2 separate regions of the Homo sapiens genome follow, and region 2 is linked to region 1. A link means that fine-mapping ties the variant in region 1 to the expression of a gene that starts in the linked region. Tissue or cell type: whole blood. Region 1 holds a variant in brackets; the other region holds the start of a gene. All regions are shown on one strand. Distances are between the middles of the regions.

What was found. PIP is the estimated chance that this variant, and not a neighbour inherited with it, causes the effect.
Region 2: IGFBP4 starts here. The variant in region 1 is fine-mapped to the expression of IGFBP4 in whole blood (TOPMed, PIP above 0.99).

The regions. Positions count from the first base shown.
Region 1 is chr17:40,529,511-40,534,766 of GRCh38, reverse strand. LOC107985090 (a long non-coding RNA gene) reads left to right here and starts at 293. Exons shown (of 2, transcript XR_001752884.2): 1 at 293-357; 2 at 1,688-2,521. The variant G/A (reference allele first, on the strand shown) is at 3,231.
Region 2 is chr17:40,440,413-40,445,412 of GRCh38, reverse strand. IGFBP4 (insulin like growth factor binding protein 4) reads right to left here and starts at 1,963. Exons shown (of 4, transcript NM_001552.3): 1 at 1,329-1,963. The coding sequence starts at 1,677. RefSeq lists silencers at 1,757-1,806, 1,817-1,866, 1,877-2,066 and an enhancer at 4,113-4,162.

The sequences.
Region 1 (5,256 bases):
ATAAAAGAAACTGGGTCTGCTGAGCTCTCACCTCCACTCTGCCTCTGCACTCCACCCCTCCCTTGTCAGACCACTCTGACCTGGGAGGCAGCTCGAGGTTTCCAGCAGAGCAGGGGTAGGGCGGGAATAGAGGAGTGTGTGTGTCTGTGTGTGTGTGTGTGTGAGTGTGTGTGTGTGTGTGAGAGAGAGTGTGAGAAAGTGTGTGTGTGTGAGAGTGTGTGTGTGTGTCCTACATGTGTATACCAATGTCTCACTGCTTTTTATCACTCAGTCTGGTTTTCATTTCTTTAGGGAAGAGGATGGGGCATGAAAGACCAGTGGAAGAAATGGGAATTCCTCAGGCTGAGGGAATAAAAGGTCAGAAAACATCAAAGTTGATGGAAACTGTGGCTTTCATGGCCAAATCCCCTGACTTAGTCCAGGAGGAAACTCCGGCCCAAAAAAAAGGACTTGCTCAGGGAGTTGGGGTTACAGCCTGCACTTCCAAAACCCCACTAATGCTTTTTGTACCAAGCCCTCTGCCCCAAAGCCAGGGAGAGGATAGATCACTCACAGTTCATAGCTCAGCTCAGATGTCACCTCCTCCAGGCAGCCTTCCTTCCCCCTCCACAGCCGCTCTGCCCCTCCTCTGGGAATATGGTAAAAACACTCACTCTTCATATTTACTGAATATTTACCAAGTGCTGGACTAGCACGCCACAGGTTTACTCACCTGTCTGTCTCACCCACTGGATTGTGAGAGGATGGAAACAGATTCTGTCTTGGTCACTGTAGCCTCCCCAGACCTCAGGAGACCCGGTACATAGTAAGTACTCAATAAACAACTGTGGGACTGAATGTCCAAATCAGTGAAAGGATCAACCGAATGGTTATACAAGCTATTCTACATAACAATGTCCTCGTGTGTGCACAGGGCTTTCATTTTTCAAATCACATTAATCACATCGTCTCAGTAGAACCCAGTGAGAGACCCCAGTAACAAGGAGAGTGGTATCAAGTGTATGCCCACATACACACCTGCACACCAGCACATGCAGCTCCCCTCCATGTTTATGTAAGTGTACAGAGACCCATACACCCATGCCTTCCTAGCCGGCAAGAAAGATGCCATGACGTGCTATTTCCTGTTTTGTCTGCAAACATGGAGGCCTCCCCCACCTTCTTCCCCACCCCGAGACACACACACACACACACACACACACACACACACACACACACACACAGCCAGTTTTCCTCTTCAGCTGAAAGAGTGAAAGAAAGCCAGCTGTCCACAAGGGGGCATTCAAGGACCATCCAACTCAATATCTCAAAGCTAAGACTGCTTCTTGGTCTCAGAGAGACGAGATCCCAGGAAAAACTGAAGAACCAGGGTGGGGTCTCACGTGGAAACCCAGAAGAGGAGGTGGTCAGCCACTACAGAAGCAGGGCTGATGGAGATGGAGTCTCCGTCTGAATAATAGAAATGGTAATACCACTCACTCTACATATTTACCAAGTGCTAGTCCCTGGTCTAAGCACTTCACATGTCATGACTCGTTTAATCTTCCTCTCACCTCCTCAAGGCTTAGTGTTGCTATAATTCCTGCTTTATAGATGAAAAAACTAATGACTTAGAAAAATTAAGTAACTTGCCCAGGGTCACTTAGTGGTGAAGGCAGAATTCGAACTCAGGATCTGTTGTCCATAGGTCATACTGTTAACTGCTCACTCTGCTGCCTCGAGGCTGGACTTTCAGACATCCTACTTCTCAGCCCGGGATTCTCTGTGCTGGACTCCACTTCTCACATCTACAGGCCCTTTTGGGTGGTTGATGAAGGACCTGGAAGCTGATTTCCTAAGAGTGAATAACTTGGTGCCCTGAAGCTGACCCCTCATCCACTATAAACTGTCGATGCTGGGTTGGTATAGTGCCTTTGGAAAGCAGTAAAGCAATTACCAGCAAAAGGCATGAAGCTCTTCCTCCCCCTTTGACCCAGTAATCTCTTTCCCTGGGAAATTATTCCAAGGAAATTATCCAAACGAAGCCAAGTGTTATCTGCATACATGTGTGCATTGAAGTCTTTCTTTAAAGGTCAAAAACTGGGAACCACAATAAGGAAGTGGTTTAATAAACTGGGACATCAACACAATGGACAATCAGGCCTGGAAATCCACAGCTGTGTGACTGTGATGGGGAATGGAAACATGGAGAATGCTTCTACTACACAGTGTATCACCACTACACTCCCACCTAACTAGCTAATTCAACAAATCACGCTTGTCAAGGAGAGAGAAGTCTCTCTGTTCATGTTCAAAATAAACTCAGCCTCTGACACCACAAAGGAACAGAAGAGAAGCTTAAATGCAACAAACACAATAAGCTCAATAATTCTTGGCTTTTGAGTTTCCAAGGCCACAGGTCCTGATGATGTATGACATTTTCTGAGAGTGATTTTGATGATTGGTTATTGATGATTTTCACCTTTCACACTGTACTTGTTATTAAGCCATCTAATTCATCATATTAAATTTTGTTAAGATACCTGGTGTGGTTTCTGTTTTCTGGCCAGACTCTGATACATACACAGACCATGGACCCTGATGAATGATATCTCCCCCATAATGATAAGTGATTTTTTAAGACTTCAAAATTAGTGCACCCACCATGATTTCAACTTATACAAATGTATACTTAAGGAGGGTACAGGTATGGCTGGTCTCCTCCAAATTATACTTTGTACTAGTTGCCTCTTGATGCATAATAAAGTACCCTAAAGCTCAGTGTCTTGAAACAACAACTTTTATCATCTCACAGTTTCTGTGGGTCACAGATCCAGGTGCAGCTTAGCTGAGTCCTCCACTTCAGCACCTCTGCAGGCTGCAGTCAAGCTGTCAGCTGAGCTGGAGTCATCTCAAGGCTCAATTGGGGACCCAATACCAAGCTTACTCGAGTGGTTGCTGGCAGGATTCAGTTCCTCGTGGACCACTGGATTCAAGGCCCCGATGCCCTTCACTGCCTGTGCCCTCTGTTCCTCAGCACGTTGGCCGTTCCATGGGGCAGCCTCCAACATGGCAGCTGCTTCATCAGAACACATAAGAAAGAAGTCTCGAAGAGTGTGAGCAGGAGGGGAGTCCCAGTTTTGTATAGTCTAATCTCAAAAGTGACATTCCCCCACTTTTACCATATTTTACTCATTAGGAGCAAGTCACCAGGTCCAGCCTACACTCAGGGGAGGGGATTACACAAGGAC[G/A]CGTGGTATGCCTACCACATACTTGAACATTTATAGCATCTTCTCAATAACAAAAACAGTATTTTCTCAAGTTACTTGTCTAATATGGAAACTTTCTAAATCCGTTGGTAAATGCCCACACCCATTTCTCTCAAGCAACAGCCCCCTGGTCCCCCTGGTCCCCCGCCCCCACCAGACTTAGTGGAAAGTCCCTGCTGGGTGAGTGAGTGGCTTTTTGCCAGATTGGGGGTGGGGTGGGTGGCAGGATGGAGGCAACATGGGCACCTTCAGAGATCAAACATCAGAGGAGGGAGGCAACTCAGGACTCGCCTTTGAAAAAGGTTCAGTTGGTGCCTGCCCCAGGCCATTACCATTGCTTTAGGCTGAATTCTTAACCAGCCCAACAAGGCCTGGCCAGATGTGGCTCCGCCTGCTTTCTCCAAGCTCAACTCGCCTTTCTGTTCGCTCTCCACACGCTAACCACAGTGGCCTCTTCTCTGGCCTCAGACAGGCCAGGCTCTTCTTCTCCCATCAAGGCATTTGCTATGCTCTTTCCTCTCCTGGATCCCCACCCTGCCCCCCAAAGCCTCACCTGCCTGACTCCTACTGAGCCTTCAGACCTCTGCTTGGACAGCGCTTCCTTGCAGGGGGCCACCCCCAAGCCTCCAGTCTCGGCCAGGTCCCTGAGCTACTGTGATTCCCCTCCCAGGAGATCTCTGATTCCAACCAGGAATAGCATTTCCAACCAGCCCTTAGGCAATTTTTACAATAGGGCAAGTTTGGGAGGCACTGCCCACCGTCTTCACAAGCTCACATGGCACCCTTCCCTCTCCAGTTCCACTCAGCACACCTAGAGCTGATGAGTTAGTTCTGCCCTGTGGACCCCTGCGGGCCAGGCCCACATGTGTCTTGCCTAAGCCCAGTAGGGGTGAGTAGGTAGGGGGAGAGCAGGCTGGAGGGAGATGGACAGGCACTGCCAAGGCAAAGGTGGGGTGGAGCGAATGAGCACTTTGCTGCTGAGATGGGCAGAAGAGAAGCTTAGCTGGGCACTGTTGGGGGAGGCAGGTGCCACAGGACATCCAGGTCCCACTGAGAACACTCAGGATGCTAAAAGACAGTCAGAGATCCAGGACGAGGGGAGATCTTCCAGTGCTCCTACAGTCACCAGGCAGAAAACCATGACCCTCAGGCTCTTTCTGGGATAGTGTAGGCTGCTCACAGCCCAACTGCTCAGGATTACAATGGCGGAGATTGAGGTTTAGGGTTGTCAGGTTTACCAAAGAAAAACACAGAAGCCCTGTTAAACTGGAATTTCAAATAAAAAACAAATACTTTTGTAACATAAGTATGTCCCAAATATGACTCAGGTGTCCCATATTTTAGCTGGCAATCCTGCCAAGGTTATGAGTTGATGCTAAGGCCCCAAGGCTAGGGTCTATGATTATTCCAAGGGTTTCCTGGAGACAAGAATAAACTCAGGGCCAGGCACAGTGGCTCACACCTATAATCCCAGCACTTTGGAAGGCCAAGGTGGGAGGATCACTTGAGGCTAGGAGTTCGAAACCAGCCTGGGCAACATGGCAAAACCCTGTCTTTACAAAAAAAAAAAAAAAGTTAGCCAGGCATGGTGGTACACACCTGTAGTCCCAGTTACTCAGAAGGCTGAGGTAGGAGGAACCCTTGAGTTTGGGAGGTTGAGGCTGCAGTGAGTCATGATCACACCACTGCACCCCAGCCTGGGCAACAGAGTGAGACCCAATCTCAAAAAAAAAGGGGGGACTGGACACAGTGACTCACGCCTGTAATCCCAGCACTTTGGGAGGCTGAGGCAGGCAGATCACTTGAGGTCAGGAGTTCAAGACCAGCCTGGCCAACATGGCAGAACCCCAACTTTACTAAACATACAAAAATTAGCTGGGCATGGTGGCACACGCCTGTTAGTCTCAGCTACTTAGGTGGCTAAGGCACAAGAATTGCTCGAACCCAGGAGGCAGAGGTTGCAGTGAGCCAAGATTACGCCACTGCATTCCAGCCTGGGCAACAGAGT
Region 2 (5,000 bases), 89 kb after region 1:
TGGAAGCTTCAAGCACCAGGAAAAGAGACAGAGACAGACAGAGGCACAGGAGAGCAAAACAGGGTCGGAGATGGAATGAGAAACAGAGGCATAGATACAGAAAGACAGACAGAGAGATTCCCAAAGTAACAGGGAAAGACCAACAGTGACAGAGACACAGAGAAACAGCAACAGAAAGAGAGGGAGAGAAGCAGAGCAACTGAAACAGAAACACAGAATAAGGTGGAGAAAGAAACGCACGATGGGCAGAAGACACTGAGGAAAACAGAACTCGAGAGCATGACTAGTGAAACTAGAGGTTGAGAGACAAATCAGGAAGAACAAAAGAGCAAGAGAAAGAAGGAAAAGAGACTGAGAGTCTAAGGAGAAACTGAGAAACAAAAAAAGAAAGTGTAAGAATGAGGTTAGGGCAAGGGCCTTCTCAGAGTCTCTCTCTCTCTCTCTCTCTCTCTCTCTCTCTCTCTCTCTCTCTCTCTCTCTGTCTCTGTGTGTGTGTGTGTGTGTGTGTGTGTGTGTGTGTGTGTGTGTTTCTCTCTCTCTCTCTCTCTCTCTCTGTTTCTCTCCCCTGGCGCCCTGGCCCCTTCTCTATTCCCTATCCCACACACATGAGGCTCCTGCAGCTCTCGGCTAGGAGCCAAGACTTTTCTACCACCTCAAATCCTACCTGCCTGGAGAAAAGAACAGGGGGCCTGTATACCAGGGCAGGCAGAGGTGTCCAGGCCTGGCAGAGGGACCCCTGTCTTCCCACTGCCTCTCAAACAACAAGGTGACCTGGCTCTGGGCTTTGGGGAAGGGCAAGTCTAATGCCCCTCAACGCCAAAGTCCCTCTAATTTGTATGTCCCACTCCACCACTGGACCATGTAAAAAAAAAGTTCAGGCCCTGGCTCCCCAGACCACTGGGATTTCACCCTCGGCCTGGATCAGGAACAGAAAGCTTTCCCCACTCCCTCATCCTCCCCAACACACACCCCACCACCATCCTCCAGTTCTCTGGCCCTAGACAGCTGACTTAACTGGACCTTAATCTGCCACTCCTGCACCAGCAGCCAGGCCTCCCACTGGGACCCCCTTATCAAACAGACAACCCTTGGAGGTTTGAGATGGAGCGATGGGACAGTCTCCCTTGGTGGTGGCAACAGGCTGCTAGGGACTCGGTAGCAGTTTCCTTGATGAGCCTGTCCCATGCCAGTCGGGCCCTGCCACGTACCTGCCTTCTCTTCAACTCATAGGGGATTTTTAAGGGCCTTCCAGGGCGGCTGGAATGGGGAAGAAGCCGCTGGGAAGGGAGCGCACTCAGGAGGGAATTGGGAGGCCAGGGGTACCTTACCAGAGGGCTGCAGGCTTTCCTGGATGGCCTCGATCTCCGCCAGCTCCATGCACACGCCTTGCCCGTGCATCAGTGTGTGCAGGGGCTTCTCCACCCCTCGGGGCGGGTAGCAGCGCAGGCCCGAGCCGCAACGGGGGGTGTACACCCCGCAGGGCATCCCCAAGCCCAGGGCGCAAGTGGCGCAACAGCCGCAGCCCGGCTCTCGCACCAGCTCCTCGCAGCCCACGGGGGGGCGGCAGCGCGCCAGCTTCTCCTCGGAGCAGGGCGGGCAGTGGATGGCTTCGTCGCCCAGGCTCGGCCCGGGCCCGGCGGCCAGCAGCAGGGCGGCCACGAGGCAGAGGGGCAGCATGACCGCCCGAGGACTGGGCGCGGGCGCGGGGCGCTGGGCGCAGGCGGGGAGCGCGGGCGCGCGGGCGAGCGGCGGAGGGCACACGGCGGCAGCGCCTGGCGCTCCTGGAGGACCCGACCCGGAGGGCGCGGGGAGACGGGGCGGCCCGGCGGGCGAACGGGGACGTAGCGGGGGAAGTTAGCAGGCGTGCCGGAGGGGAGCAAGCCTGGCCGCCGAGGCGCTGCGCCGCATCCTCGGCCCGGCCCAGGCAGGCGGCGGGCGGCGAGGGGCAGGGGGCTGAGCGGCTGCCCGGGACCGGCTCCCCCGGACTTTATACCGGTCCCTGGCCACACCCCCAGCGCCTTCCCAGAGGTGGGGGAGCCGGGGCGGGCGAGGGGGAGAGGGAGAGGCGGCCGTTAGGGGGAGGGGGCGCTGTCCTGAGTCGCCGCCGCCGCCGCCGCCGCATCTGAAAGTCCTTTTCTGCCGAAGAAGGAAGCGGCGCAGTTTGGAAGCTGTAGCAGGCGCCCAGAGTGCCTCTGAACCGGAGCCCCGGAGGGGAGGCAAGGGAGAAGGGAAGCCAAGGGGCTGCTGCGGGGCCCCCTTTCCCGACCTCGGAGGAGTCTCGTCCCGCCCCGCCAAGGCGGCCTCAGTCTCCCACCGAGAAAGGGACTTCCTAGCCCGGACTCCCGGCTCTGCGGATCCGGTCTTCCTGGACAGAGCCCTTTCCACCGCACCCCGGTGCTTCCAGCCTCAACCGCTGGAGACCAAGCCTCCTGAGGTGGGGTAAAGCGTACAGGCACAGCTAGGGGCACAGAAAGGCCTGGAGGCCCTAAGACGTTAACAGGCTCTTGCCACTTGCCCCTTGCAACCTCTCCCGCCCCCGCAATCTCCCCAGGGCGCATTTGGGCCCTGGTCCACCCTGCTTCCCCAAGATGGAATCAGCAGAACTCCCGGGGAGGGAGGTGCCGCCGAGCCTCTTCCTCCTTCTTGGATGTTTGCCTCTCAGGCCCATTCAGACCCACTCGTGGAGGGAGGCAGGCCTGGGAGATTGCCACTTGCAATGTGCAAGTTTTGCGTTGAACAACTCCAGTGGGGCACCATTCCTTGTAATCATTGTGTATTTGTAGAGCTGTTGTGATCATTTCCCAGATGGCAGTGAAGGATTTGAGGGGCCTGCAGCAGTGACTCACACCTGTAATGTCAGCACTTTTGGAGGCTGAGGCGGGAGGATCACTTGAGCCCAGGAGTTCAAGACCAGTCTGGGCAACGTAGTGAGACCTTGTCTCTACAAAAAAATTTTAAAATTAGCCAGGTGTGGTGGCGTTCACCTGTGGTCCCAGGTACTCGGGAGCCTGAGGCAAGAGGATCACTTGAGCCCAGGAGTTGGAGGCTGCAGTGAGCTAGAATTGTACCACTGCACACCAGCCTAGGTGAAAGAAGGAAACTCTGTCTAAAAAAGAAAGAAAGAAAGAAGGCCGGGCGCGGTGGCTCACGCCTGTAATCCCAGCACTTTGGGAGGCCGAGGCGGGCAGATCACGAGGTCAGGAAATCGAGACCATCCTGGCTAGCACGGTGAAACCCCCTCTCTACTAAAAATACAAAAAGTTAGCCGGGCGTGGTGGCGGGTGCCTGTAGTCCCAGCTACTAGGGAGGCTGAGGCAGGAGAATGGCATGATCCCGGGAGGTGGAGCTTGCAGTGAGCTGAGATTGCGCCACTGCACTCCAACCTGGGCGACAGAGCGAGACTCCATCTCAAAAAAAAAAAGAAAGAAAGAGAAAAAAGAAGGCCAGGCGTAGTGGCTCATGCCTGTAATCCTAGCACTTTGGGAGGCCAAGGTGGGCAGATCACCTGAGGTCAGGAGTTTGAGACCAGTCTGGCCAACACGGTGAAACCCCATCTCTACTAAAAATACAAAAATTAGCCGGGCGTGGTGGCGCATGCCTGTAATCCCAGCTACTTGGGAGGCTGAGGCAGAAGAATCGCTTGAACCCCAGGAGGAGGAGGTTACAGTGATCCAAGATCATACCACTGCACTCCAGTCCAGGTGACAGAGCAAGACTCTGTCTCAAAAAAAAAAAAAAAAAAGAATTTTAAGGAAGGGATGCTTTTTTAATTCACCCAGTGTTGCTACTTGGGCTAGTGTTGGGCCTGGCTTGACCCTCTGTAAAATCCTATTGATCCCTATTCCCCCAGCCTTGCCCAATCCTGCCCAAATTGAGAAGAGCCCTGGAGTGGCATTTGGAGCAAAGATCCATCTCCTAGGTTCCCTCTCAGGCCCCCGCTAATTCCCACCCATTCTTCCCTACAAAGGCTTCTGCTGTACTGGAGCTGGTTTCAGGTTAAGCGTACCTGTCCAGGAATAATCAGTAACCCACTGTGGATTTTTTTTTTTTTTTGTCTCGGCCTAGAAAGCTGCAGGTCAGCCAAGCTGAAATGCAGTTCAGAGACCCTCTTCCTGCTTCTTCCCCCAGGACAGGGGTCTTTCAGCCTCACGGGGATTGGGCTACCTCCTACTTACTGAGAGATGATTGCAGGGAGATTGGGACTGGCAGCCGGACCTGCAGGACAGACCAAAAAGTTGCAAACTGACGGCACCTACTGGCAACCATCAAGACTGCAGAAGGGCTGGAAAGTGATGGCTGGGGCCAAGATTCTGGGGTTCTCTCCATTCCATCTCATAGATGAAGTGGGGACCCTTCTGCCCCATATGCCTTGGAGAAGGGCAAACAGAACCAGCTTCCTCAAGTCCCTGGGGAAGCCCAGCCTGTGCCTGATTCAGAAAACTGCCCCCAGGCCGGGCATGGTGGCTCACGGCTGTAATTCCAGCACTTAGGGAGGCCAAGGCGGGTGGATCATGAGGTCAGGAGATCGAGACCATCGTGGCTAACACGGGGAAACCTCGTCTCTACTAAAAATAAAAAAAATTAGTCAGGCGTGGTGGCACGTGCCTGTAGTCCCAGCTACTCAGGAGGCTGAGGCAGGAGAATCGCTTGAACCCAGGAGATGGAGGTTGTAGTGAGCCGAGATCACACCACTGCACTCCAGCCTAGGCAACAGAGCAGGATTCAGTCTCAAAAAAAGAAAAAAAGAAAAGAAAACGTTCCCCACCCCATCTCCTTCCTTGATCATCACTGGACCCTGTTCTGCCACCAACTTGCGTGAACTTGGAGTTTGACTGACCTTAGCTGTAACATGGAGGTAGATCATCTCCACCCATCCTACCTCTTGAAGCTCTTGTGAGAGTAAAATGAATGGAGAAGAGTAGTTCTGCTCCCAATGCCAGACATGTGCCCTGTTCAGCAAGCCCAAGAGGAGAAAAGGTGCCAGGACACAGAGGCAGGAG